Linked DNA regions of Homo sapiens. The protein of the gene in region 1 purifies or fractionates together with the protein of each later gene. This does not show direct contact. Each region holds a gene or a part of one and is shown in the gene's direction. Other genes may lie near its edges. The genes, in order: AP1S2, AFTPH, AP1AR, CLINT1, HEATR5B, AP1M2 and SYNRG.

The links.
Region 2: the proteins of AP1S2 (region 1) and AFTPH purify together in Homo sapiens (affinity purification with mass spectrometry; 3 studies listed by BioGRID and IntAct, with this or other methods). This does not show direct contact.
Region 3: the proteins of AP1S2 (region 1) and AP1AR purify together in Homo sapiens (affinity purification with mass spectrometry; 3 studies listed by BioGRID and IntAct, with this or other methods). This does not show direct contact.
Region 4: the proteins of AP1S2 (region 1) and CLINT1 purify together in Homo sapiens (affinity purification with mass spectrometry; 3 studies listed by BioGRID and IntAct, with this or other methods). This does not show direct contact.
Region 5: the proteins of AP1S2 (region 1) and HEATR5B purify together in Homo sapiens (affinity purification with mass spectrometry; 3 studies listed by BioGRID and IntAct, with this or other methods). This does not show direct contact.
Region 6: the proteins of AP1S2 (region 1) and AP1M2 purify together in Homo sapiens (affinity purification with mass spectrometry; 3 studies listed by BioGRID and IntAct, with this or other methods). This does not show direct contact.
Region 7: the proteins of AP1S2 (region 1) and SYNRG purify together in Homo sapiens (affinity purification with mass spectrometry; 3 studies listed by BioGRID and IntAct, with this or other methods). This does not show direct contact.

Annotation. Positions count from the first base shown.
Region 1 is NC_000023.11:15,825,050-15,828,634, reverse strand, and holds the end of AP1S2 (AP-1 complex subunit sigma-2), read left to right. Parts: intron 1-434; coding exon 435-443; intron 444-1,262; coding exon 1,263-1,310; 3' UTR 1,311-2,829; downstream 2,830-3,585. UniProt on the Homo sapiens protein: Subunit of clathrin-associated adaptor protein complex 1 that plays a role in protein sorting in the late-Golgi/trans-Golgi network (TGN) and/or endosomes.
Region 2 is NC_000002.12:64,548,109-64,552,439, forward strand, and holds part of AFTPH (aftiphilin), read left to right. Parts: intron 1-2,996; exon of another isoform or gene 2,997-3,156; intron 3,157-3,334; 5' UTR 3,335-3,366; coding exon 3,367-4,331. UniProt on the Homo sapiens protein: Component of clathrin-coated vesicles.
Region 3 is NC_000004.12:112,230,119-112,235,249, forward strand, and holds the start of AP1AR (AP-1 complex-associated regulatory protein), read left to right. Parts: upstream 1-1,668; 5' UTR 1,669-1,973; coding exon 1,974-2,056; intron 2,057-2,157; exon of another isoform or gene 2,158-2,254; intron 2,255-5,131. UniProt on the Homo sapiens protein: Necessary for adaptor protein complex 1 (AP-1)-dependent transport between the trans-Golgi network and endosomes. Regulates the membrane association of AP1G1/gamma1-adaptin, one of the subunits of the AP-1 adaptor complex.
Region 4 is NC_000005.10:157,852,023-157,856,353, reverse strand, and holds part of CLINT1 (clathrin interactor 1), read left to right. Parts: intron 1-4,331. UniProt on the Homo sapiens protein: Binds to membranes enriched in phosphatidylinositol 4,5-bisphosphate (PtdIns(4,5)P2). May have a role in transport via clathrin-coated vesicles from the trans-Golgi network to endosomes. Stimulates clathrin assembly.
Region 5 is NC_000002.12:37,056,585-37,060,915, reverse strand, and holds part of HEATR5B (HEAT repeat-containing protein 5B), read left to right. Parts: intron 1-182; coding exon 183-335; intron 336-1,928; coding exon 1,929-2,028; intron 2,029-2,355; coding exon 2,356-2,465; intron 2,466-3,435; coding exon 3,436-3,599; intron 3,600-4,300; coding exon 4,301-4,331.
Region 6 is NC_000019.10:10,574,448-10,577,849, reverse strand, and holds part of AP1M2 (AP-1 complex subunit mu-2), read left to right. Parts: intron 1-493; coding exon 494-652; intron 653-2,820; coding exon 2,821-2,946; intron 2,947-3,357; coding exon 3,358-3,402. UniProt on the Homo sapiens protein: Subunit of clathrin-associated adaptor protein complex 1 that plays a role in protein sorting in the trans-Golgi network (TGN) and endosomes.
Region 7 is NC_000017.11:37,598,840-37,603,170, reverse strand, and holds part of SYNRG (synergin gamma), read left to right. Parts: intron 1-2,767; coding exon 2,768-2,808; intron 2,809-4,331. UniProt on the Homo sapiens protein: Plays a role in endocytosis and/or membrane trafficking at the trans-Golgi network (TGN). May act by linking the adapter protein complex AP-1 to other proteins. Component of clathrin-coated vesicles.

The DNA of each region.
Region 1 (3,585 bases):
GAGGGGGCAAGAATACTTCATAGGTTAGACTCTTTTTAAAAAAATACCTTTTTTCGCTAAAGCTGATTTTTACCCATTTTTATTACTATGCAGACATACTAAAAGGTCATCATATGAGCTTTATAAGTAGAATTGGTGTATAGTACTTGCGTTTAATAATAAATGCTAAATCATTTCGATTTCAATTGTGTAACTATATCACCTAACATTTTTGAAGCACTTTCTATAAATTAGGCAGAGCCTTAATTCACTTAATCTCAACATATGAAGGTAAGTACTATTATCCATGTTTTCCAAATAAGGAAACAGACCATAGAGTTTAAGTAATTTACTTAAGATTACACCATGAAGTGCTTTACATGCAATTAATATTCTAAAGATTTATGGTTTAATATAATTTCTCTTCTCCTTGCTTTGTGCTGTACCATGATTAGGATGCGAAAGTAAGTTTATTACTGGATGCCAAAAATTTATATTATTTTCCATCATTAAAATATAGTGTTGCCTTTTAATTACAAAATTCGTTGCTAGTAATACCTGAAAGTTGGCCTCCTTGGTCCTTTATTTTGTGATTTGCAAAATCAGCCACTTTGGAAAATTATTAAATAATTTTTTCCTGGATATGCTTACTTTGTTTTGACCTCCTTTGACACTTAAAAACCAGTGCTGGTTGCTACATAGAATAAAAATGCCTTTGGCCCATGGCATTCTTTGCATATGTGGCCTCTAGTGATGCCATTGGTTGCACTGGGGAGGTCTGGGAAGATAGCTGTTTCTGAAGACTTGCCGCTGTGGACACAGTTAACTAAAAACTCCAAGAGGAAGACATTTCTATAAATGCATGTGACAAAAAGCATGGAACACAACAGTAGGCGAAGAACTGTGGGAACTCGGAGGGAAGAGGTTTTGAATTTTACCACTAAGATAACTTATCTTTCATATATATAATTGAGTAGCAGTGATTTCATAAATTGCCAGCAGGTTTGCACTGGGCTTGACTGCTTTTTGCATGACAGCAACGGCATCTAGCACATTGGTAGGTAATTAGCAGGTACTTAATGAATGCTGAAAACGTCCTTTTGTGGTCTCCAATTTTGAGGGCACAAAACCCTAAATAACCAATGGCTGTCAACTAGAATGCTACTGTGACACGAAATTGCTTTCTTGATTCTCTAAAACAAGCATGTTCTTCCATGTCAATGTTTCACATTCTCAAGACTCCCTGGATCTGCTTACCAGAGTCTCACATTTTCCCTCCACAGGAAGCTGAAACCCCACGTAGTGTTCTTGAAGAAATTGGACTGACATAACTCTCCTCCCTTGTTGATGACTTCTTGTGGCATTTCACACACTGTAGATGGTCACTCCCTTCATGTCCATGTTAGCTCATGGTGTAAGATGATGTCTTGTCAGTATTACTGTTTTGCTAAGCCGCTTCATTCATGCCTACACAATTTTTTTTTAAAAGGGAACTTTAGTTAATTAAGTGATAAGGGACTTAAATATGAATTAGAATGGTGCAGAAAGAGATACCTTTTCTGGATATTTTAAAGTTTAAAGGTCAGTTTCTCTTAATCTGATTATGTGCACATATGAAAATGGCACATCATATACATGTAAAATCAGGCAGTATACATTTATTAATTACTGTATTTGACAAAGGAAACTCTTAAATTATAATGTGAAACCTGGTTTTATGAAACCAAAGACTAGTGCAGCATTTCAGCATATGTAAAAAAAAAAAAAAAGGGAATTGACATGTCACATATCAAATGAATGGAAACTTTGTTGAAACTTTAAAAAGCAAATTTACTCCAAAGACTTGTATTGGAAATTACATACCTTTTTTTTTTTTTTTTAAAGGACTACAGATTATTTTTAATGACTAAATTGGAGTGATACTTCTTACACTAAAAATTATTTCTTAGGCATTCTGAATCTGGGATGAGAAACAGGATTGTTTCACAATAGTAAGCACATAATTTTTAAGGCCAAGGCACATTTGACTCCTGAGATGAATTTTTTGTGGTCATAATCAAATACTTAGTTGTTTTTGATGCCCCAAAATAAAGTGAGAATGGTAATTTGCCAGGAATTCTTCATAACAGTATCTTACAAAAAACGTGTTGCTCTCTTCACAGTATTATGTGTAAAGTCATTGTTTAAAGCACGAATGTTCCCTCTGGGGTACTTGTTAAAGCTAAATTTATTTTGCTTCCCTCCACTTAGAAGTGCTGCACACTTTACAGCAGCTTCCTTTCTTTCCATGGCACTGCCTAGTTAACAGAAGTCTTATAAAAATTTAAAAAGACACATTTCTTACAAAAAAGAGTTGAATGAGGTAAAATGGCATTAGATGGCTCTATATTTTTTAAAGCTATGTAATTGTTCAGCGTCACTTTTCTAAGTACTTATACATATCTAAACATGTCTTCATGGTTTATATTTTCACTTATATATGCTGGGCTGGATTAAGCTTTGTTGTGATTGTGACCAACATTCAGGCCACGTGAGCACTGTCTTATCACATCGCCAATTAGTTGTAATAAACGTTCAACGTACAAACACTGGAGTGTGTTTTTATCTCTTTCCAAAAGTTTGTCAAACTATGCAGAGCTGCTGAAGGAAGAATTTCTCATTTTTTTTTCAGTAAAATGTTGAAAATTCCCCTCCATTTGAATATGGTGGTTGTTATAAGCACACACAAGATACATGGTGGAAGATCTAAGGAGTCTTCATGTACTTCATTAAAAAATAACATGGATTCCATACTGAGAGCCTATCTACACATTTATTTTCAATCAATAAATGCTGCTTTTAAAACCTTGATGCAGTTGACTTTTCTACTCTTTCTGAATGAACAACTTAGACTGTTACTCAAAAGGTATTTCAAATCAACTGGATTCCTCTTACCCCCTTGTGAACTGAAGGTGCTAGCACATGCAACAGAAAGGGACTAATACTTGCAGACTGTACTACCTAACCTATGCAACAAATCAAATCTATGGTAATCATGATAGTTAAGGGACCTCCTATTACTACAGATAGGAAATGTTACATTCTAAAACTGGGCTATTTAAGAAGGAGGCAGGAACTACCATCAAATTAAGTTGCTAGTCTACTGGAAAAAAAGACGTTTATAGGTTTAAAAAGCCTCCAACATGCAGCTAGCTATTCACTGAAAACAGGCCTGTGGGTTTCTGCTAGCAATGTATAGTTGGAATTTTTGAAACATAAATAGTAATCAGGCAATATATATTAAAAAAAACTAATAAATTTAAGTTCAAGATGGACATTTATCAGGATAATGAACCAGTCAGTGGTTTAAAAACTTCCTGCCCTTCTACCCTGCCTATTAACATTTGAGGGGAAAGTCATCAATATCTCAGTTGTCCTGAGCTCAAGATGGTGGTTTTCTTTCTTAGCCTCCATGATTTATTAAGATTTCAGCTTTGCAGACCACATTTAATTGCATATATCTTGACTGTATTTAGAAAAGTATTAAAAAATACTGAATTTAATGATAATTACTCGGCGTTACTGAAATCAGTAGATAGTTCTAGGTCAATCATTTTCAGGGTGAAG
Region 2 (4,331 bases), on another chromosome or scaffold:
AAGGGCCGGGCGCGGTGGCTCACGCCTGTAATCCCAGCACTTTGGGAGGCCGAGGCGGGTGGATCATGAGGTCAGGAGATCGAGACCATCCTGGCTAACAAGGTGAAACCCCGTCTCTACTAAAAATACAAAAAATTAGCCGGGCGCGGTGGCGGGCGCCTGTAGTCCCAGCTACTCGGGAGGCTGAGGCAGGAGAATGGCGTGAACCCGGGAAGCGGAGCTTGCAGTGAGCCGAGATTGCGCCACTGCAGTCCGCAGTCAGGCCTGGGCGACAGAGCGAGACTCCGTCTCAAAAAAAGAAAAAAAAAAAAAAAAAAAAAAAAAAAACTTTAGAAAAAGGAATCCTGTAGTTAATGGCTGTATAATATGCTATTGTAGGGATATAGTATAACTTGCCTAAATAATCCCTTTGCAGCATTTTGTTTTAGATTTCCTTAAAAGGAGTTTGCATAGTACAACCATATTGCCTTCTGGAAGGCTTGTAACAATTTACACTCACAAGCAATGTGCATGTGTGCAAGGGTTCCTTTCCCCACATTCTCATTAACAATCGCAAAGTGATTTTAAATAATAGGAACTTCATAATTAGAGGGACATAGTTAGAGGTCAGATTACCTCGTACACTAATTAGAAGGGGTTATCAGGACACTAGGCAAGGGAACAAAATAGGATTTGTGTGTATCTTGTACTTTTTTTTTTCTATTTAAATCAGCAGCAGGAAAGAAGAGTATGGCAGAGCAAAGCAGTTATTTCCTTCTTTATGGTGCTAATTTCGTAAGAAAGATAATTTGAAGTAGATATATTACAATGGAGCCTTTTCCTTTTCTTGTGACTTGCTCATTTCTTCCTGGTAACTCTGAGTGACTGACCAGTCGTTAACCTCAAAGATCCTTTTCAAAATTCTGAAGCCATTCTCCACTAAGCAGCTGTCTGAATGAACTTTGGGAAAGTTACTCACTAGTTGGCTTCATTTTCCTCACCTCTAAATTAAACTATGTGGTTTCTACGGTACCTTCACTCTAAAACTGTGGAAGATCTTAGGAAATTTTATTCTGAGAGAAGTCTAGCTTGCAAAACTGGTTGAATTTTGTAGTAAACATTTTCCTCATGTATCTAACTGGGCAGCTGTGAGTTGTAAGAAGTATCTGTTTATTATTTATGTGCTGGTTTTATTCTAGGACTTTGGCTGTTAGTCCTCCCTTTTTTTTTTTTTTTTTTTTTTTTTTTTTTGAAACCGAGTCTCACTCTGTCACTCAGGCTGGAGTGCTGTGGCACGATCTCGCCTCATTGCAATCTCCACCTCCTGGGTTCAAGTGATTCTCCTGCCTCAGCTTCCTAAGTAGCTGATATTACAGATGTGCACCACCACGCCCGGCTAATTTTTTTATTTTTAGTAGAGGTGGGGTTTCACCGTGTTGGCCAGGCTGGTCTTGAACTCCTGACCTCAAGCAATCTGCCCACCTCAGCCTCCCAAAGTGCTGGGATTATAGGTGGTCCCTTTGCTTGTAATGTTAAATCTGACCTGTGGAACTTTTGACTCCTCAGCACAGAGGAATAGAATAACTCAGGTTTCATTTAAGAATTAAATGTATTAAAAAGAAGCTATTACAAATTAATTAGTATGGGAAGGATTATTCAACAAAAGGGATTAAGACCATTGCTTGGCTGTTGAGAAAAAAAAAATTCACCTTACATTTTTGCTTTACATCATACACCAAAATAAGTTCTAGATGTGTTAAAATTAAATGTTTTTTATTCCCTAAAAGTAGAAGAAAATAAAAGTGAATATTTATTAACTTTTATATGACAGCAAAATAATGAAGAAAGTTGCATAAAACTTTCTTCATCTTCGTGAAAAAATCAATTGATTTGACTTCCTAAAATTAACTTGGGAAAACAGCTTGGCAGTTTCTTATAAAGTTGAGCATGCTACATGACGCAGCATTCACACTCCTGGGTTTATATATTTTAGAGAAATGAAAACATGGGTTCACATAGTAATCTGTACATGAATGTTCATAGCAGTTTTATTTGTAATAGGAAAATACTGGAAACAACCCACATATCCTATATGGAGTGAATGGGTAGACAACCTGTGGTACATCTATACAATGGAATGCTAGTTAGCAATGAAAAAGAGTCAGACCCAGGAGTGGTGATGTGCACCTGTAGTCTCAGCTACCCAGGAGGCTGAGGCAGGAGGATTGCTCAGCCCAAGAAACCAGCCTGGGCAACATAGTGAGACCCTGTCTCTGAAAAAAGAAAAAGAAAAGGAATGAACTGTTGACAAATGCAGCAACATGGATAGCTCTCAAGGGCATTATTAGGCTGAGGGAAAAAGCCAGCTTCAAAGGGTTATGTATTGTGTGATTCTATTTATATATAACATTCTTGATGTAACAAATTATAATGATGTAGAATAGATCGAGGATTAGGGTTTAGGGAAGAGTGTGACTATTAAGAGGTAACATGAGGGAGTTTTTTTTGTGTTGATAGAACAGTTCTTATCCTGATTGTAGTGATGGTCACTCTAATCCACACATATAAAATTTTTAGAACTGTACGCATGCACACACACACACACACACACACACACACACACACACACACACACACACACACAACTGGTGAAATCCAAACAAGGTCTGTACCTGAGTTAATAGTATTGTACTGATGTCAGTTTCCTGGTTTGACCATGTGTTATGGTTATTACCTTATTACTATATTACCATTGGGAGAAGCTAAGTGGAATATACACAAGAACTCTTGTATTTCCAACTTTTTTTGAGTCTTAAACTATTTCAAATTATTAAGTATTTAAAAATTAACTTGGGTCAGAAATAAACATTGAAAAGCCAAGTGAAGAAAATATTTGTAACAATTATTACTGATAAAATTTTGATGCCTTTATTAATATAAAGAACTCATACAAATCCATAAGGCAAGCACTGAATCCTTAATGAATTGAAGGAGAACTTAACAGAATAAGCACTTACCCCAGGAGAGAATTTTGTAGCTGTACTTTTGTAAGTGTATATTCAGAATTATCTGGAATCCCCACATTTCATTAATGTACTACCAGTGCTCTTGGTAACATGTAGTCTAAGAGAACTTTTTTTTTTTCCAGTGCACTATAGCTGTGTAAAGTAATTGCACCTAAGAGAAAAATAGATTAAAAGATACAAAACATCATGCAGGACATGGTCAAGGAAAAAAGGAGACAAAATAGAGCATTGTAAATTTGCATTGTTTTAAAGTAGCTTTGAGAGAATTTTGAAAGATCTTGTTCTATGTAATCTGTCCCCTCCAAAAATTCTTTTTTTCTTTTTTACAGGTGTAAATTAATTATTTGAAAGCAACTGAACAATGGAGCCAGACATCATTCGAATGTACTCTTCATCCCCACCACCATTAGACAATGGAGCAGAGGATGATGATGATGATGAATTTGGGGAATTTGGTGGGTTTTCAGAAGTTAGCCCTTCTGGTGTAGGGTTTGTTGATTTCGATACACCAGATTATACTCGTCCCAAGGAAGAGTTTGTACCTTCAAACCATTTTATGCCAATTCATGAATTCTCAGAAAATGTAGATAGCCTTACAAGCTTTAAGTCCATTAAAAATGGTAATGATAAGGACATCACTGCTGAACTTTCTGCTCCTGTGAAAGGACAGTCTGATGTTTTACTTTCTACCACCAGCAAAGAAATAATTTCATCTGAAATGTTAGCTACTTCCATTGATGGCATGGAAAGACCAGGAAATTTAAATAAAGTAGTGGAGCAGAGACAGAATGTTGGAACACTTGAAAGTTTCTCTCCAGGAGATTTTAGAACTAATATGAATGTTGTTCATCAAAACAAGCAGTTAGAGAGCTGCAATGGTGAAAAGCCTCCTTGTCTGGAGATTCTAACAAATGGGTTTGCAGTGTTGGAAACTGTAAATCCTCAGGGAACAGATGATCTGGACAATGTAGCTGATTCAAAGGGACGGAAGCCTCTTAGCACTCATAGCACTGAGTATAATTTAGACTCTGTACCTAGTCCTGCTGAGGAATTTGCAGATTTTGCCACATTTTCCAAAAAGGAAAGGATACAATTAGAAGAAATAGAATGTGCAGTTTTAAATGATAGAGAAGCACTAACCATTCGGGAAAACAATAAAATTAATAGAGTCAATGAACTGAATTCTGTAAAAGAAGTGGCTTTGGGTAGAAGCTTGGATAACAAAGGAGACACTGATGGAGAGGATCAGGTTTGTGTTTCAGAAATAAGCATAGTGACTAACAGAGGTTTCAGTGTTGAAAAACAAGGCCTTCCAACACTGCAACA
Region 3 (5,131 bases), on another chromosome or scaffold:
ATGTCTATAGGAAGTGCTGTCAAGTCTATAGCTGCATTTTTTTAATCAAACTTTTTATATTGAGACAATTGTGTCACATGCAGTTTTAAGAAATAATATACAGATGACCGTGTATATCTTTAATCTAGTTTCCCCCAGTGGTGACATGTTACAAAACTATTGCAATATCACAACCAGAATACTGACATTAATATAGACAAGATGCAGGATTTCCATTCCCTGACCCATGGCAATCAATTATTCTGTTGTCCACTTACATAAATTTATCAATTCTGAGATGTTACATAATGGAATTACACAGTATATAAGCATTTGAGATTGGCTTTTTCTTTAACCATAATTTCCTACAGATTCATTTCAGGGTGTGTTCATCAATACTGTGTTCCTATTTGTTACTAAATATTCCATAGGATAGATGTACCAGTTTCTGTAAACATTTATAGTTGAATTTTAATGATTATTTCATTAATACATTTGTCTAATTTCAGGGGTTGGAAGGAGAAAAGAAAATGCTTTCACTAGGAAGTCATTCGGTCATCCCAACATTCACTGAAAGCAAACCATTGGGACAAATGTTATCCTATGCTTCTGATTACAAAACAACTAAAACCCAAATAAAATAAACATTAGTAAGTAGCAGTGCTAAGATTGAAACCAGATACGTATTTAAAGAAGCAAGAAAATGAGTTCAGAGAACATTTTATCATCAATAAAAACTTTCTAAAATGTAACAATTTTTCTAGGTTTAATTAAACAGGCTAAAAACTTGATGTGTCCAGTCCATGAGAGCATCCTCCTATCCACTGGACGAGGTGTCTACTAAACCACATCTTATATCTATTGTGAGGCCAACTGTCTTGAGGCCAAACAAGACGCGAATTATATGGTAGCACTTGAGAGGGCTGCGGACACATTAGAGCAGCTTTCTCTTCCCATCTACAGCAGTTCTGGGCAGCATGCTTGGAATGGCAACGCTGACGTCCCCGAAAAACCCCAGCCCTCTTGCCAATTTCCTCTGAACCCCAACTACCCAACCCAAAATTATGTGAAGATCTGATTTTCAAACAAAACGAGGACAATAATGCACCATTATTACGTTTCCCTAAAACATTAACAGTATGGAAATTAAGACACAAACCAGAGACCGGAAAAAAATCTTGGTGCGTTCAAAGTAACCTCAATCAGTTCCCGAGTCTATTTTCCGCTTATGGTGCAGTATTAACAAAAACTAAGCACACCGTGCAGAGAAACGCCCCTTCGCACTTATGACTTCCGGCCTGGGACTCTGGCTCCTCACACGCCTTTGATACAAAGTTCGAAGGCTGAGCCTTAGCCATGCCACGCCCAGCGTGCTCCGGACGAGGATGCCCGAAACTGCAATGAGAGAGGGAAATTTCCTAGTCAGGTCAAGGTCCAACAAAACAAACGTCCGCACGCAGGAATTGAACCGTCTCGCAGGCAGAGGCGGCTGAACCAGGAGCGAGCGGAAGTGACGCACAGGCCGGTCGCCAGAGAAGGCGGGGCACCGAGGTAGCGCGCCCAATTGGGGCGCGGGAGAGGCCGGGGGTGTGGCAGCGTTGGCGGCGAGCAGGGGCCTGGGCGCGCTGGGGGCGGGGCCAGGGTGCTCGGCTCGCGGGGACTGGCCTCCTTCGGCAGCTGGAGGCGGTCACTCACGCTGGGCTAGGAGCTGAGGCGAGAAGGGCCATGCGGACGGCGAGGGAGTCCAGAGCCTTGAGCCCGGTGCTCCTCCCTCGCGCAGCGGTGGCTCTGCGGCCGCTGGAGTAAACACTGCCTTTGTTCCCTAGCGCCTCGTCTTTCGTCGCCCCGTGCCCTCACGCCGCCGGGCTCTGGCCGGCCCGCCCTCGGTCCTTGAACCCCATTTCGGCTCGTGCCGTGCGGATGCAGCTGCCGGGCCTGGGTTTGGGCATTGAGCGGGAGGAGGAGGAGGAGCGGCGGCGCCTGGGCGGCATGCGATGGGGAACTGCTGCTGGACGCAGTGCTTCGGACTGCTTCGCAAGGAAGCGGGGCGGCTGCAGCGAGTAGGCGGCGGCGGAGGGTAAGCCCGCTGGGGGAGGGGCCCGGCCCCCGTGGCTCCTCCTCTTCGGCCCCCGGCGGGGAATCCCTTTCACCGTCCCCCGGCGGCTGGAGGTGGCGGTCGAGAGCCCTGCTACACTCACTGCTTAGCAGACGTCAGACTGGTGGTCGTCTTGGAGGCCCAGTCTGGGGTCCGGTCTTGGGGCCTCCTCGGAAAGAGGTAGAAGAGGGGGCGGGGTGTCCCTCCTGCCAGGGCGCCCTGTCACGCGGGGAAGGAGTCACGGGAGACATCATCTCCAGGAAACAAGGGGTAGCTTCGCGCTAATGGGCTGTAGGACCGGCTCCACGGCAACCTGGACACACCCTGCGCTGAGCTTAGGTTTAACGCCAAAGCTAGTATCCCTGTATCTGACCCTCTCTTTAGCCCTGGCAGAGCAGGTGGGATCTGGCTCCGGAGTTAATGCCTCAGATTGATTTTAAGTAGAAGTCATTTGGATGCTGGAGTAAAATAAGGTTCCAGATACTGATGAACTCTGGTAGCTACAAAGACTTGCTGAATTGCAGAGTTCCCAATGGGCATTCAGATTCTTGGTGCTCATAACTACAGGGACAATGTGTAATTTTTTCGTATTAAGTTTTTGAAATTTCGAGAGGAATTCCTTGCCCTGATTGCTACTCAAACGTCCTGTAACATTAGGTAAATTGCAGTCCTTCTGAACTTCACTTCTCTTGAGTAAACCTGGGATATTGCTTAGGTTTTGTATATGCACCATCCACAGAATAGTAATTTCATAATTCCGTTTTTGTGTTTTTTTATTTCATATATATTGAAAAAATTAGAGCAAATTCCTTTGGGGTTGGCTTTGTTGTTATTAAATGTCCCTCCGGAATTCAAACCTAGAATTGAAAATCTGAACCAAGCCAGTTTGTGTAAGGACTAAGACTGTTTTGCACTTTCTGAAACAGATTGCTAATTTTTCATAATCTGTTCCATTTAACTAACATTATTGGGTAATAAGATGTTCAACATAAATAAATTGCAGTAAATGATCATAATTTGAATCTTTGGTAATGGAGATCTTATAAAATATAGGATTCTCATTCATTAATTAGGCATTGTGTCACCTCTCTGATACAAAATAGCTAAGGTTTTACACTAAGTATCCCTAGAATGGAAGGGCAAGGATTTGCAGTTTGTGCCTAGTGTAATATTTCGATTTCCCTAATTTATGAGTTATTACTCTTGAGTGGGACATGACAGTTGTTTTATCTTGTCATCCAGGATCATCTGGTTTAAGTATTTATAATTTTTGTGTGTGAATGAAACTTACAAGGTCAAGCTGCTTAAGTAGGCTTGCCCAATAACTAGATGCCACACAATCTTTGGCTTTTACTATTATTTGTAGTTGTGTTACAGGGCGTTAAATTCTAACTCCAAGAAAGTTGGTTGGTGAGGGAGCAGTACTTACATTCTAAATGGATAAGCAAAAAACTTTATATTTGACTTTGGACTACATGATGTGTCTGTGGACTTTAGTTTTGTTTTTTTCATGGGGTCTCCGTAGAGTACGGCATTAAAATTGTAGGTTCTACTCCCTCAGCTCGTGAGCTTGGCAGCACAGGGAGGTGGCAGGAGGAAATCCATGAATCAGCGTGAGTGTTAATTGTCTGTAGATATGCCATAAAAACATAAGCAGGTGGAGTATTTCTTTCTTTTTTTTTGAGACGGAGTCTCGCTCTGTCGCCCAGGCTGGAGTGCAGTGGCGCGCGATCTCGGCTCACTGCAACCTTCGCCTCCCGGGTTCACGCCATTCTCCTGCCTCAGCCTCCTGAGTAGCTGGGACTGCAGGCGCCCGCCACCATGCCCGGCTAATTTTTTTGTATTTTTAGTAGAGACCGGGTTTCACCCTGTTAGCCAGAATGGTCTTGATCTCCTGACCTCATGATTCGCCAGCCTTGGCCTCCCAAAGTGCTGGGATTACAGGCATGAGCCACCGCGCCCGGCCAGCAGGTTGAGTATTTCTTATCTGAAATACTTGCTTTGGAGTTCAGATTTTTATTCAGATTTTGGAATATATGCATTATATACTGGTGTAGTATCTGAAAATCTGAAATCCAGAATTCTCCAATGAACATTTTCTTTGAGTAACATGTTGGCACTCAAAAAGTTTCAGATTTTGGAACATTTCAGATTTTGGGTTTTGGGGTTAGGTATACTCAACTTGTGGTTGGATTTTTACTGTTTGTGGGCAAAGCTCTTTGAACAAGTCCTGTGGAGGCAGTGAGAGTTTATAGGTTGTGGACACTGTCATCTAAAATTATATAATGGTGATATTGATCCTATTACTTTAAGTCTATAAACAGGATTTGACGGTTCCCTTACTTGAATTTTCTGATTAACTTATTGTTTAACATCAATTTTAATACTGTTTTAGCAGCTTCCAGTAAGCATGTAGAGACAGATGGATATAGTTACTTGTGCAATAAGGTTAAACTCTTATTTTAGTTTTTTTTTTTTTTTATCAGCTGTTTTGATTTTCTTTCAAGTATAGGTCTGGATAGTTAGTAGTTCTTCTAAAGGTGAAAAAGTTGAGGAGTAATCACAAAAACTTGATTTGATCCTATATGTCTTTGTAGTGACCACAAAAGAAGAGGGTGTCCTCAACTTTTTTAGCTTGATTTAAGCTAGACTTCACAGGGAAGCCTTATGATCTAAGGCCTGGTTTCTGAGTCTTGCAGATTGACATACCCCTGAGAAATCTGAAAATCAGATCACTCGTTTTTTACTATTTTAATCTCAAAACCAGAATTACCACTTTTTCCAGTTTATAAAATACTAGGGAATTCTAGTATTGTATATTCTAGGATATCTGTTTCACCAGTCAAAATATCAATATCAGTGTTGACGTATGTTGGAAACCCTACTACTAATGAAGTCATTTGGTGATTAAAGCAGAGAGAATTAAATATCTTTAAGGAATAAAACTTAGGCATCCTAATGAGTCATACTTCTTCACTGGAGTTTTGCCTGCCAACACTTTCTACAGGGCTCCATCTGCTGGTCAGTTCTCCTGTTTCTCTGAGCAGGCCTTTGTAT
Region 4 (4,331 bases), on another chromosome or scaffold:
CACATGAATCTCCAGACTTTGCCTTCCTTATCTGTAAAATGAGGGGACCTGGCTAGAGTAAGACTTTTTCCACCTTTGATGGCTATTGGAGAAATGCATTTCCATCAAGGAAAAATAGTTGGAACTAGTTTTTACAATAGCAGACAAATTTTGGAGCCATTATCCTCTGTAGACAATTTAGGCTGAAAAGGGAAATTTTCTTAAAAAGTGGTAATCAATAAATGTTATACTTAAATATTTTATGCAATAAATAAGACCATGACTCAGGAAGACTAGGACTTTTAGTGTATATTGATACCCAGTGAGGTTTTACTTCAGAAAAAGAAATGTACTCTGAAAAATGTGTTTCCTGGAGCCACTCTTAGATTCAGTATGGTAGCGGCTCTTAAGTGTAATGATGTATTTCTTTTTTTTTTTTGAGATGGGGTTTCGCTCTTGTTCCCGGGGCTGAAGTGCAGTGGCGAGATCTCAGCTCACTGCAGCTTACACTTCTGGGGTTCAAGCGAGTCTCCTGCCTCAGCCTCCCTAGTAGCTGGAATTACAGGTGCCTGCCACCACACCCAGCTAATCTGTGTATTTTTAGTAGACACGGGGTTTCGCCATGTTGGCCAGGCTGGTCTTGAACTCCTGACCTCAGGTGATCCACCCATCTCAGCTACTCAAAGTGATAATGATGTATTTCAAACACTGGCTTTTGAGACCTTGAAGACTTTTTCTGGAAGTGGGGGTATATTTTCCACAATCGCTGCACCTCCTGGTGGCAGTAGAGGGATTTGTTTTGCAGAACATTGTGGAACTGAGGGAAGCAGATAAAGCCATAGGCCTGCCAGAGCTTGGAATGCCAGTATCTTCCCACTCGTCAAGTTGCATAAAAGGCGATGTGGCAGGAAAGGATAAGTGGCACCATTCCCACCAACTAGGAGCACTAGCTTAATCATTGTCATCCTATGACCTATCTTTACTTGTGGCTGTAATAAAATTGGACATGTTTATATTTTGTCATCCTATACATGGTAAAATTGAAAGTTGCTGCAGTTCTATTTTCTCTCTAGATTTGAGGAATGTAATGAAGGTGACATGGTAGTGGTAGATCAAAACTGCTACTTATTTGTTCAAGCTCAGCGAATCCTTCTCTTTCCTTGCAAGGAGTAATATTAGTGGTAAATCTCTTTCATCAGTGACCCGCCCCCCCCCCCGCCTTTTTTTTTTTTCGGAGACAGTTCACTTTATCCCCCAGGCTGAAGTGCAATGGCGTGATTTCAGCCCACTGCAATCTCTACCTCCCGGGTTCAAATGATTCTCCTGCCTCAGCCTCCCGAGTAGCTGGGATTACAGGCGTCTACCTCCATGCCTGGCTAATTTTTGTATTTTTCATACAGCTGAGGTTTTGCTGTGTTGGCCAGGCTGGTCTCAAACTTGTGACCTCAGGTGATCCACCCACCTCGGCCTCCCAAAGTGCTGGGATTACAGGCATGAGCCACCTTGCCCAGCCTCAGTGGCCCTTTTTTTGATAGTGATTCAAACAGCTCTGGCTAAGGTCCTAAGGCAACAGCTATGGGTAGTCCATTTTAAGTTATTCTCCTAAGCATAGCTTGCATTTTCCCTCATAAGTTGATTTTTATTGATGTATATTTGCTTGGTTTTAGTTCCTAAATGTTTAGATAATGTAATAGAGCTGTAGAAACTGCTGTTCTAGTCTCCTGACTCCAGAGGGAGAAACTTTTGCTTTTATAAAGAATAGTATATTCATTTATTTTAACAGGCAATACATTTGTTATTTATTGGATTAGTAGTCTGGTTTCTTTTTATTTTTTATTTTTGAGACAGGGTCACACTCAGTTGTCCAGGCTGGAGCACAGTGATGCAAACATGCACACTGCAGCTGGGACCACAGCTGCGCCTCCATGCGTGGCTAATTTTAAAAAATTTTTTTGTGGAGAAGGGTTCTTGCTATGTTGCCCAGGCTAGTCTTGAACTCCTGGGCTCAGGCAGTCTGCCTGCCTCAGCATCCTGAAGCGCAGGGATTACAGGCGGGAGCCATTGCGCCTGGTCTAGTACTCTATTTTCTGAACTCGAAACATACAATACCTGCCTTCAAGAACCTTGCCACTACAAATATGCTACAACTTGAATGGATTATTTTTCTTTTCTTTTCTTTCAGTCTTCAGATATCATCCCCTTTATTTTCTTTATCTTACCAGTAAATCTCTGTTCAGTTTGCTTCTTGGAATTTGAAAGCAGAGATAGTAAGATAGTTGTCAGCTTTCTAGTCTTCCCATGTCAACTTTTCTTTGAACCGATTATAAGTAATTGTTATTGCTGAAACAATGAATTAATTATTCTCCTCCTTTTCTAGTAACTGGACACAAGTAGATATTAGGAATTTAATTCCAAAGAAAGATGAGTTTGGTTTATCTCTGCTAGCATTTCTTAGGGGTAATTTTCTGTAGTTTAATCTATTTAGTACTACTGTCAGGGTGCTTTTAAAAAGCACTTAACTGCCTCTTATGTTTTCTTGCACACTTTAGTATTAGTTTACAAGCAGTTTTTCTTTTTTTTTTTTTTTTTTTTTTTTTGAGATGGTGTCTCGCTCTCGTTGCCCAGGCTGGAGTGCAATGGTGCGATATTGGCTCACTGCAACCTCTGCCTCCTGGGTTCAAGCAATTCTCTTGCTTCAGCCTCCTGAGTAGCTGGGATTACAGGCACGTGCCACCATGCCCGGCTAATTTTTGTAATTTTAGTAGAGACGAGATTTCGTCATGTTGGCCAGGCTGGTCTTGAACTCTTGACCTCAGGTGATCCACCTGCCTCAGACTCCCAAAGTGCTGGGATTACAGGCGTGAGCCTCCGTGCCCGGCCTACAAAGCAGTTTTTCATCTGTTTACTGATATGTCCATTGAAAGTACTTAGCCTTTTTTATTTTGAGTGCCATTTGCTAGTAATCCAAGGTTTCACAATATGGCTCTACAGTTGAGTCTTTTTCTGGACTTTTTTTTTTTTCTTTCTTTCTTGAGATGGAGTCTTGCTCTGTCTCCCAGGCTGGAGTGCCATGGTGTGATCTCAACTCACTGCGACTGGCCTCTGCCTCCCAGGTTCCAGCGAGTCTCCTGCCTTAGCCACCCAAGTAGCTGGGATTACAGGCATGTGCCACCATGCCCAGCTAATTTTTGTAGAGACGGGGTTTCATCACTTTGGCCAGGCTGGTCTCGAACTCCTGACTTCATGTGATCTGCCTGCCTTAGCCTCCCAAAGGGCTGGGATTACAGGCATGAGCCATTGCCTCTGGCCTTTTGTATGCTTATATTATTTTCCTACTTGTTTCCAATGTTTGTTTTAATGAAGATCACTTCACAGATTCAAAGTACATTTTTAGTACTTTTGAAGGTTCTTATATACAGTTAACTTTTTAGTCTCAGCTACCTTTGGTGACAACATATTTTACTGTTTACTCTTCTGTGTTTTTCAGGTTAACGCTTCATGTGAGCTTTCCTTGTTTAGCTTAATTATGTGTGTTTGTCCATCTATGTATTTTTATAATAATTTGCTAGCCAAATATACTTTGCCACTATACTTAGGTGCCTCCAGATGGTGTTTAATAAATGTGGGAATAGCTAGTGGTTCAGAGGTGAGAACTGGATTGAAATCTTAGGTCTGCTACTAGAAACGGTGATCTTATGTGTTAGAATGGTATCTTTATTTCTCTGTAAAATAGAGATGATATTTTATAGGATTATGAGGATTAAATGTGAAACAGTATAGTACTTGACATACAGTAAACTCTTGAAACATCTATTACTGTTATTACTGTTACACACAAAACAGTATAACACTAGAAAAATCAAAGGAATACAGTGTTTGTGAAAATAGAGATATCATTGTCAGACTAGGTTATTTGTAAGTATGTAGGAACTATATCTTCATCCATGAAATCATTATTTTCAGTGAGTACTCTCTCTTAAGACTCAGTTTAGCCTACATATAGGACAGCTAATTTAAATACCTCTGTTGTTTATGCCTTGTATTATTTTTGCTAAATCATAAATGGCTTCTACTTTAATATTGCAAAGCATATTGCAGAAATACCCTTTCAAAAGACATGTTGAGGAATAAAGTCTTTGGAAAGACATATCGCGAATTCCATCTGCCAATTCTTAATATTTTGTTCAGCTTGTTTTGTGTATTCTCAAGATTTTAAAGTAACTGCTAATGTAAAACATTACTAAAACATAAAAAGATTTATTTCATAAATGCAAATTGAAGCAGACAATTTATTCTTAAGAGACTGAACAATATCAAGAAAAAGAATCCTCTAAAATATGTGATACCAAATT
Region 5 (4,331 bases), on another chromosome or scaffold:
GAAAATAATGTAATTTTAGAGATAAAAATAGAGTGAAATAACAGATATTGTTAAACATCAGTATTTTACTCTATTTTCATCTCTAAAATTACATAAAGTTTGTGTTGGGCTCATTTTGCTTGACACTTGTTTGTAAGGTATGTTACATATACATGGTTTTGTATTCTCATTTTCTTGGCTAGGACCATCTGTCGTTCGTTACCATCTGCCCAAGATGTTGTTATTGTGGCGAAATGTTTTCCCACGTTCCTTAAAGGAATTGGAAGCTGAGAAGGCCCGAGGCGATTCTTTTACCTGGCAGGTAACTTTGGAAGGTCGTGCTGGAGCTCTATGTGGTAAGAACTGAAAGGATTGTGCTTCACAATATTATGACATAACTAAAATATTTGTAAAGTAAAAGAAAAATCACTATTTTATAGTTTTTTATTTTACTAGGTAATGATAAATTCATAGGCTTTTAGATTTAAATAGAAACTTTATAAATGATCCACTTCAGTTTGCTAATTTTGTAATAAAAATGAAACCCAGACTCTGAAAAAGTGTTTAGACCTGGTGGTTAGACAGGAACTAGAACCCAGGCCTCTTATTCCCACTTGTTGCTATCTTACCTGTCAAAGAAGCACTGAGTCACCATGTATAAAAAAAAGAAAAAATACCCAACAGCTATTTAAAGAAAAAGAAACTCAGGATTACCAAAGTTATTGGCATTTGCAGTTAGTCTTTTCATAATGGAGAAACAGCTGTTTTTTCACATCCTTATCAAATCTCCAAACCTTCATATATTTTTCAGATATCAACATTACAAAAATAACGGATACAGTTGTTTTTGTCTGGGAGTTAACAGCTTACAGGAAACGCTCAGGTTTTGTTTCGTTTGATAACTAGAATGACATTGGATGTACCAGTTCTTTTTTGGTTTATCTCAGAGTGAAAACTACTTCTTTTTCCAAACTGGGAGAGAGATACATGTTTCACCACAAGGGCAGCCAGGCAAGGGGGCACCTTTACTCTCACACATCTAGGAGGTGTTTTAGTCTAGGCTCTATTGCTAAGGGGCCAATAAAAATATTTTTTTCTCACTGGACCATTTTTGTTTATATACATATATATTTACACAAATATATGTAAAAATTCAAAATGCAAAAATATATGTAGTGGCCGGGTGCTGTGGCTCATGCCTGTAATCCCAGCACTTTGGGAAGCCAAGGCGGGTGGATCACTCTCAGGAGTTCTAGACCAGCCTGACCAATATGGTGAAACCTTGTCTCTACTAAAGATACAAAAATTAGCCAGGCGTGCTGGTGCTTGCCTGTAGTCCCAGCTACTCAGGAGATTGAGTCAGGAGAATTGCTTGAACCTAGGACGTGGAGGTTGCAGTGAGCCGAGATTCCGCCACTGCACTCCAGCCTGGTTGACAGAGTGAGACTCTCTCAAAAAAAAAAAAAAAAAAATATATATATATATATATACACACACACACACACACACACACACACACACACACACACATATACATATATATCTGTAAAAGTTGCAAAAATATATTTAATATATGTAAAAATTTCATGTAAATTTTAAGGCATTGTTTATACACATAAATGTATATGTGTATAAACAATGCCTTAAAATTTCTTTCTTTGTAGTCATCTGAATTCCTATGGGATCATAGTCCTCTGAATTTCCACCCGAAGAATCTCTCTAACCAGTACCTTCTCTTCCTCCATTTTTCTATCCACCTTTTTTCTAGCCTTTTCCACGATTTTTCTTTGTAGTTGTTGCAAGTTTTTCTTTTGGTTCGACATGGTTTCAGAACCTTATACGTTATAATAATTAAGTATTACAACTGCCTTTATATTTATACAATTTTATAAATTAATTCATGTTCACAAAAGCTACTCCAAATCTGTCCTTTTAAACATTTTATCTAGCCATGAGGAGCTTCGTTGCACATTGTCCTGAGCTACTAACTGAAGATGTGATTCGAAAATTGATGACCCCTATTGAATGTGCCATGACTATGATGTCACAGTAAGTAAGCGATTGAGACAAGTTCACATCCTATTTTATATATTAATAATATACTTCTCAGCCATATTTTGTGCTTTCTTCTAGAATCATCTAGGAAACATAAAACTTTATTTTTGTAATATAACTTTAAAAATTACAGCAATGGTGTGGATTGAAATACAGTTGTATCTTAAAGTGTTTTTGTTACAGCAAAGATCACAACATAAGCTAAAATGAAAGTGTATACTTATCAGTGTAGTTTGGCAGTACATTGATACATTGCTAAAAAAATTTATAAGTAATACTTATTCTGGTAAGCCATTACCAACTATGTTTTTGATATTTTAGCATTCCATCTGTAATGAAAGCCCATGGAGCTCATCTGAAAGCTAGTGCTGCAATGGTCCGTTTAAGACTTTATGATATCTTGGCTTTGTTACCTCCAAAAACTTATGAAGGTAAATTAAAAATTTGTGGTATCTGATAAAAATTTTTCTTTACAATTCTTCACCGTATTATAGAGTCTTGACAAAGGCTCTCCCACTGACTTACTGTGCAAAGGAAGGCCACCATTTTATTTTTCTTCATGTAGAGTAGCTGATACTTGTTGACTCCTTACTGTGTTCTGGGTCTCGTTTTCAGCCTTTTGTATTAGCTTTTTGACTGTGTTGCAACTTATGAGGCCTTTAGCCCTATTTTATAGATGAAGAATCTCAGATTGAGAGACTTAAAGAAACTTAACTTACCCAAGACTTAGAGGTAGTTAAGTGGCAGAGCTTGGATTCAAATCTAGCTGGTTTATCTTCAAAGTGTGCACTTTTGATTAATACACTGAAATGCTTCCTATATACTGTAATATAGCAAATAATTCGAGGATCTGGAGGGAGAAATCAAATATTATGTAAAATATTAATAGTAAAATAAACTATTGATTTCTTTCCAGTATAATCATGCCAAAGAATTTTGGTGTGCTGTGGTTCATTGTACATTATTGGGCAATAAATAATAATAATCATATCACATTTAATATATTTAAAATAAAGTATCTTTGTTTGTGTGTGTCTTTCAGACAGGGTCTTGCTGTGTTGCAGAGGTTTGTCTCAATCTCTTGGGCTCAAGCAATCCTCCTGCCTCAGCCTGCTGAGTAGCTGGGACTACAAGCATGCTATGGCACCCGCCTCTCTTTCCTCTATTTGAGTTTTTTGGTTATTTTAAATAATTTGGGCTAAAAGACACAATACAATATATGAAAGGAAGTACCATTATTGTATATTAAAACCAGCATTTAAATATAGATTTTTTTTAAAGAAGAGAACAGAGACTTAATTATTTTATTCCTGTTGAACATGTTGCAGCTCTTTGTGGGCAATGATTATAATTTTCACAAAAATTATTCTTTTTAATCTGATCTGAAGTTCTGTTTTTTAGGATCTTTTAATGCACTTCTTAGAGAACTGGTAGCGGAATTCACTTTGACTGACAACTCAGCCAACACAACTACTTCCCTCCTCAGATCCCTCTGCCATTATGATGATAGTGTTCTTCTTGGTTCTTGGCTTCAGGAAACTGATCATAAATCAATTGAAGACCAGGTAATAAACATAGAGGAAAATGAAATACTAACTTAATCTGAAACAATGGTCCTATTACACATTGTCACTTAAAAAGAAAATAGTGTATAGAAAGGTTTAATCCCCATTTAGTGTTCTTAGACACTTAAAGATGGCATCCTGGTGGTAGATAGTGAAAAAAGTTAAACAGGAAGAGTGAGAATTTGGCAAATTGTCTTTATTTAATATTCTGTGTATTTAGATACCTTGTGGTGGCTGTGATAAAGATCAGTTTTAACTGGCTTTTTGGTTATTGGTATTTTGTTTTGTTTTAGTTTGTTTTGTTTTGTGACAGGTTGGAGAGGAATGAGTTAGTAGGTTGAAGATTTAGAACTTTTGCCCACTGAATACATTATTTCTTATGTACTTTTTAAAGAGTGATTAAAGCCCCATTTAAAATAATTGTGGGATTAAGATCTTGTGTATATTGTTCACGCAATAAGGTGGGTGGTGTAAATATGTTTTCGAATGAATAAAGCTTTTCTTAAAATTTGTATAAGGTGTTACTGATGATTTTTTAATGACCAAATTACATTTTGGTCTGTTTTCAAATGTTCGGATCCAATCATTCTTTTTTTGTTGCCTTTTCTCCTTTCTCCTCTGCTGTAATCCTCATTCCCAATGTTTAATAAGTAGATTTCCTAAAGTAGATTTTGAATAATTTTTATTTCACTCTTTTGCAGCTCCAGCCAAACAGTGCCTCTGGAAGTGGGG
Region 6 (3,402 bases), on another chromosome or scaffold:
CAGGAGAATTGCTTGAACCCAGGAGGCGGAGGTTGCCGTGAGCGGAGATTGTGCCACTGCACTCCAGCCTGGGTGACAGAGAGAGACTCCGTCTAAAAAAAAAAAAAAAAAAAAAGGCCAAGCATGGTGGCTCACGCCTGTAATCCCAGCACTTTGAGAGGCCGGGGTGGGCGGATCACGAGGTCAGGAGATCGAGAACATCCTGGCTAACATGCTGAAACCCCGTCTCTACTAAGAATACAAAAAAAATTAGCTGGGCGTGCTGGCGGGTGCCTGTAGTCCCAGCTGCTCAGGAGGCTGAGGTAGGAGAATGGCGTGAACCTGGGAGGCGGAGCTTACAGCCAGCCGAGATCGCGCCACTGCACTCCAGCCTGGGCGACAGAGTGAGACTCCGTCTCAAAAAAAAAAAAAAAAAAAAAAAAAAAAGGGCTTGGTAAATATTTGAAGGATGAGCAAGCGAATTCTTCGTGCCCCATGCTCGCTCCCCTGACAGGCCAAGGGGCAGTTTAAGAAACAGTCAGTGGCCAACGGTGTGGAGATATCTGTGCCTGTACCCAGCGATGCCGACTCCCCCAGATTCAAGACCAGTGTGGGCAGCGCCAAGTATGTGCCGGAGAGAAACGTCGTGATTTGGAGTATTAAGTCTTTCCCGGTAAGTACCAGGGACTGGCGGGGGATCTGGGGGTGGAGGGGACTGGAGTAGTGTGGGGGCTGCCCAGGAGCCATGAGAACAAGGCAGAGAACAAATCAGAGACCCAGTCAGGTGTGATGGCTCATGACTGGAATGCCAGTACTTTGAGAGGCTGACACGGGCAGATCGCTTGAACCCAGGAGCTGGAGACCAGCCTGGGGAACACAGTGAGACCCTGCCTCTATAAAAATATTAAGAGGAGCTGGGCGCAGTGGCTCACGCCTGAAATCCCAGCCTGGCTAACATAGAGACGGCTAACATCCGTCTCTAGTAAAAGTACAAAAATTAGCTGGGTGTGGTGGCGCATGCCTGTAATCCCAGCCACTCGGGACACTGAGGCAGGAGAATTGCTTGAACCCGGGAGGCAGAGGTTGCAGTGAGCTGAGATTGTGCCACTGCACACTCCAGCCTGGGCAACAGAACGAGACTCCGTCTCAAAAAAAAAAAAAAAAGATTAAAAGGCCAGACATGGTGGCTCATACCTGTAATCCCAGCACTTTGGGAGGCTGAAGCGGGCAGATCACCTGAGGTCAGAAGTTCAAGACCAGCCTGGCCAACATGGTGAAAACCCGTCTCTACTAAAAATACAAAAATTAGGGCAGGGCACGGTGGCTCACGCCTGTAATCCCAGCACTTTGGGAGGCCGAGGTGGGCGGATCACGAGGTCAGGAGATCGAGACCATCCTGGCTAACATGGTGAAACCCCATCTCTACTAAAAATACAAAAAATTAGCCGGGCGTGGTTGCAGGCGCCTGTAGTCCCAGCTATTTGGGAGGCTGAGGCAGGAGAATGGCCTGAACTCGGGAGGTGGAGCTTGCAGTGAGCAGAGATCACGCCACTGCACTCCAGCCTGGGTGACAGAGCGAGACTCCATTTCAAAAAAAAAAAAAAAAAAAAAATTAGCCGGGCATGGGGGTGTGCGCCTGTAGTACCAGCTACTCAGGAGGCTGAGGCAGGAGAATCACTTGAACCCGGGAGGCGGAGGTTGCAGTGAGTTGAGATCACGCCACCGCACTCCAGCCTGGGTGACAGAGTGAAACTCTGTCTCAAGAAAAAAAAAAAAACTTAGAAAAAAGAAATACAAGGCCAGGCGCAGTGGCTCACGCCTGTAATTCCCAGCACTTTGGGAGGCTGAGGCGGGCAGATTACGAGGTCAGGAGATCGAGACCATCCTGGCTAACACTGTGAAACCCCGTCTCTACTAAAAATACAAAAAAAAAAAAAATTAGCTGGGCGTGGTGGCGGGCGCCTGTAGTCCCAGCTACCGGGAGGCTGAGGCAGGAGAATGGCGTGAACCTGGGAGGCGGAGCTTGCAGTGAGCCAAGACCGCACCACTACACTCCAGCCTGGGCGACAGAGTAAGACTCCATCTCAAAAAAAAAAAAAAAGAAAAAAAAAGAAAAAAAAAGAAAAAAGAAATACAAGTAAATCAGAGAGGTACGTATGTATGCAAGTGATCAAGCTTGAAACCAGGCCAGTCTATTTCACAGACGTGTAAACTTCCATGACGGGAAGTGTGTGGATTTAAATATCCCCCTGCCAATGTCTTGAGGAAACCAGCCCTGGGTTCACCTTCCTCACTATTGCTTTGCTGAGCTGGGTGGGTTTGGGAAACCCATTTCCACTTAAGGAGGCTCAGTTTGCCTGTCTGTGAAATGGGCAGGATGAGGTGACCCACATCCCTTGGCTACTAGAGGTTTTGGTTTGTCCCCATGATCTTGGGAGAGGTGGATCATCAGTGCCTGTAAAACAGGACATGGTAGTTAAAAAAAGAAAAAAACCCTGATTGGGTTTTGCAGTCAGAATCTTCCCTGGTGAGTCTCTGTCACCCAGGTTGGGGTGCAGTGGTGAGATCATGGCTCACTGCAGCCTCAAACTCCCAGACTCAAGGGATCTTCCTGCCTCAGCCTCCCAAGTAGCTGAAACTGCAGGCATGTTCCACCGCACCCAGCTAATTTTTAAACTTTTTGTAGACATGGTATCTCAATATGTTGCCCAGGCTAAGGAGCCTTTATTTTCCTGTCTGTGAAATGGGCTGTGAGCAGATCTGACTCCAGGGGTTGCTGAAAGGAAGGTCTCGGGAGGGTAGGCGGACCCTCGTGTACCTGATGCCCCCATGTTCCCTCAGGGGGGCAAGGAGTACTTGATGCGAGCCCACTTTGGCCTCCCCAGTGTGGAAAAGGAAGAGGTGGAGGGCCGGCCCCCCATCGGGGTCAAGTTTGAGATCCCCTACTTCACCGTCTCTGGGATCCAGGTGAGAGAAGCAGGCAGGGAGGATCCTCCCCTTGACTTCGGTGGGTTCCCCTCTCTCCTGTCCCTTGGCTCGAGTCACCTCAGTCCCCTGGCCTGTGTCAACACTCCTCTGAAGGCTGCCTGGTCTTTCCCAGAGCAATGTTACCTTTATCTGCCCACAGCCTGTGCTCCCTCTCCCCCGGCCTGTGCCACCTTGTTCCCCACCGGCTTGTTCACTTCTGTCCCTTCTCCACCTCCAAAGCCATTCACCATTCCGTTGCCTGTGCCACCTCATCCCCCTAAGACCATGTGATATCCCCTCATCGATCCCAGCCTGTGCCACATAGCCGCTTGGCCTAAGCCGTCTCTTTCTCCCTGGCCCTGGCCTCCTCCCTCCTGCAATCCTGGACCACCTCTTTTCATTCCCTTCCAGGTCCGATACATGAAGATCATTGAGAAAAGTGGTTACCAGGCCCTG
Region 7 (4,331 bases), on another chromosome or scaffold:
ACTCCCGGATTAAGAGCCTTTCTCACTCAGAAGTCTTCCTTGATTTGTCCCTTTTTCTTTCCAGGCTCAGAGAAAGAAGTCCCACTTCCTTTTCAAAGCAGATCCCTTTTGCTACTTTGTTTTGTTTTGTTTTGTTTTGAGACAGAGTCTCCTTCTGTCATTCTGTCTGCTCAGGCTGGAGTGCAGTGGGGCAATCTCAGCTCACTGCAACCTCCGCCTCCTGGGTTCAAGCAATGCTCATGTCTCAGCCTACTGGATAGCTGGGATTACAGGCACATGCCACCACGCCTGGCTAATTTTTGTATTTTTAGTAAAGATGGGGTTTTGTCATGTTGACCAGGCTGGTCTTGAACTCCTGGCCTCAAGTGATCCGCCTGCCTTGGCCTCCCAAAGTGCTGGGATTACAGGCATGCACCACCTCATCTGGCCCCCTTTTGCTCCTTCGCGTGTTAATCCCATTTCCTTAAAAACCTTATAAATCACTAGGTATGTATTTTGTCTCTTAAATTTTTTCTCCCTAGGGTCTCTTCCCCTTTCTTTGTTGAAACTAACTCACTTAACAATCACCATTTTTGAAAGCAGTGATTTATTTTTTAATCTTCATTCTCACCGCTATTCTACAGCATTAGACACTGGTAACTACTTCCTTGTTGAAATGTGGTCCTTCTTCAGTTATAACTCTCAGTTATAAGCACTCCCTTGGTTTTCAATGACCATTTCCTACTCAGTTTTCACTGCAAGAATTCTCCAAGTTTGTCCTTAGTTGTTTTGTTACTGGATATATGCCCTTGGCTATTTCATCTACAACCAGAGCTTAATTTTTTTTTTTTTTTGAAACGGAGTTTCACTCTTGTTGCCCAGGCTGAAGTGCAATGGCGCGATCTTGGCTCACTGCAACCTCCGCCTCCTGGGTTCAAGTGATTCTCCTGCCTCACAGCCTCCTGAGTAGCTGGAATTGCAGGCATGCACCACCATGCCCAGCTAATTTTGTATTTTTAGTAGAGATGGGGTTTCTCCATGTTGGTCAGGCTGGTCTGGAACTCCCAACCTCAGGTGATCCACCTACCTTGGCCTCCCAAAGTGCTGGGATTACAGACGTGAGCCACTGCGCCTGGCCAGAGCTTAACTTTTTAACCTTTATTTATTTATTTATTTGAGACGGAATCTCACTCTGTCGCCCAGGCTTAACCTTTATTCAAAAGAGCCTAGGCCAAGTGCCGTAGCTCATGTCTGTAACCCCAGCACTTTGGGAGGCCAAGGCAGGCAGATCATGAGGCCAGGAGTTCAAGACCAGCCTGGCCATCATGGTGAAACCCTGTCTCTACTGAAAATACAATAATTAGCCAGGTTTGGTAGTGCTCGCCTGTAGTCCCAGCTACATAGGAGGCTGAGGCAGTAGAATCACTTGAGCCTGGCAGGCGGAGGTTGCAGTGAGCTGAGATCATGCCATCACACTCCAACCTGGACGACAAGAGCAAACTCCGTCTCAAAAAAATAAAATAAAAATAAAGTTGTCAGCTTAAAAAAAACCTTAGAAGAGAGCTTTCTTACGCTCTAAAATGAGGACTTATTGTTTAATGGGTACAGAGTTTCTGTTTGGGATGATGGAAAGGTTCTGGAAATGGATAGTGGTAATGGTTGACAATATTGTGAATGTCCTTAATTATGCCATGGAATTATACACTTAAAAATGGTTAAAAATGATAGAATTTTATGTTATGTATATGTTACCACAATAACAATAAAACCTCTGACAACTTCATATAATATTCAAAATAAAATGAAACATTTTAAAGGCCCTTGACCAGGTGCGGTGGCTCACACCTGTAATCCCAGCACTTTGGGAGGCCGAGGCGGGTGGATCACCTGAGGTCAGGAGTTTGAGACCAGCCTGGCCAACATGGTGAAACCCTGCCTCTACTAAAAATACAAAAAATTAGCCAGTCGTGGTGGCGGGTGCCTGTAATCCCAGCTACTCAGGAGGCTGAGGCAGGAGAATTGCTTGAACACAGGAGGTGGAGGCTGCAGTGAGCCAAGATCGCGCCATTGCACTCAAGCCTGGGCAACAAGAGCGAAACTCCATCTCACAAAAATAAATAAATAAATAAAAATAAAAATAAAGGCCCTGTACAATCTGCTTGCTTTTAAATCATATAGTTAACATTTAACCTACATTCATTTCTCCAAACATCCCTGCATCTCTGCCTCAGAGCTTTTGCTCAAAATATATAGTGTGCTTCTATTTTCCTTCAAGATTCAGCTCCAGAGCTACTTCCATAAAACTTCTCAAGATATAGCCCATTAAAATTCATCTTTTTCTTCTCATCTCTATTAATAATTTGGACCTCGCTTATAGCAGTTAGCACATTTACCCTGTGGTATAGTTATTTGCCTGCATATGTGTATTTTTGATTATAAGATTCCATCATTTCATGTAGTTGACACTCAATAGATGTTGACTGAATTGAATCTAAACTCTCTCATTTTATAGATGGGGAAACTGGAATCCAGAGAGGACACGAAGTGACAGAGCCAGGACTAATTTCAGGGTCTTCTGTCTTTTGTTTCAACAAGTTTCCGTCTGCAGTAGCATGCTGACATGCATCCTATGGATGCTCAGTGTACTGATGTTGGGCAATTCAGTATTGTGGTGCAGAACAAACACCAGGTCCCATCTACAAGTCTTTTATCCATATAAAAAAGTACACGTGTTATTTGAAATCTTTGTACATACGAAGATTATAATGTATTTTTATTCTGTTTTCAGCTTCATGTTTCCTGTTGCAGGTGGGATAAGACCCCCTCAAGGTATGTGAGAGCTTAAGTTTTGAACTTTTATTTTTCACTCTTGTGTTTCTGAATCTGGGAATTAAATAAGTAAATAGAAAATAAGTTCTGTTGCTGCTGAATAGAGTAAAATTTTCTGCACTCTTAAACCTGTATGTCCTATATGACAGCTACTCTTAAATTTTCTCAAAAATTATATAATTTTGGGAGTAATAAGGATCACTCCTCGTTTCTCCCAAACTTACATAGACATTATGTTCATAGATTGTTTAACCTCAGAGGTGAAAGACTTTTAGGACAAGAATGTTAAAGAACAGGTGATAAAAATGAAACGAGCTGTAATTCACTTAATGATGTCTTTCTCCTTCTATCTAGTCTTCTGCTAGATTGTTAGTGCCATGTCTGTCTAATGCTCATCTAGCATTATTTGTAGCACCCAGCATGTTGATTCAGCACAATAGGTTATCTGTAGATGTTTGTTGAATGAATAAACAAACATCTTTAGTTGTTTTACACTGCTATTTTTTATCTATATGATAGTATCTTATTATAATCATGTTTTATAAATATATAATTTTGAAATTAAAAGAGATCACATAGTCTGATTCAGCTTAAGTATTTAAGTCTCAGGATTTTGTTTGGTTTTTTATTTTTATTTTTGAGATGGAGTCTCTTGCTCTGTCGTCCAGGCTGGAGTATAAGTGGCACAGTCATAGCTTACTGTAGCCTCAGCCACCTAGGCTCAAGCATTCCTCCCACCTCAGCTTCCCAGGTAGCTGGGACCACAGGTGCATACCACCACGCCTGGCTAATTTTTAAATATTCTGTAGAGACAGGGTCTCCCTATGTTGCCCAGGCTGGTATCAAATTCCTCGGCTTAAGCGATTCTCCTGCCTTGGCCTCCCAAAGCACTGGGATTACAGGCATGAGCCACCACATCCGGCCAAGTCTCAGTTCTATTCCTAGAAATTTCTCTAAGTATACCTTTTCTCTCTTGGTCTCAGACTAGGACCCACCAATATCAATTCTAGCTTTATCTTCAAGGAAATAGTAGTGAAGGAATATAATTTTGACCCATGCTGCCATGCAACTGGGACACAACAGTGAAGAAGGAATAGATCTGCCTTCATCTGGCTTCTTTCCGCTCATTTCTTTCACTCTGACAGTCTTCCCTCTCCCGTCACACCAAGCTGCTTCTGAAAACTGGCTCTTCTTAAAAAGCCAGCGTTGATTGGTTGTCATAGATTTGCTAAAGAAACAGAGACTCCTAGGTCAGCAGTAGAGATAAAAGATAAAGAGCAGCTCAGTAGCAGGTGGTCAGTGGCTCATCCTGACTTTGTCTTCATTTATAATCAGTGATGGTGGTTGGGTTTCAGGTAAGTTTTTCCAAGGCTCAGTTGTATTCTTTTCATCGTGTTCACATTTATGCATTATTTAAGCTATCTGTAATTAGATGTGTCCCAGATTGAGATCAAATGGTTTGAGATCTTTTGTTCTTTAGGAAGGTATTACAGAGTTATGTGTCCATTATCATGTTTGTTATT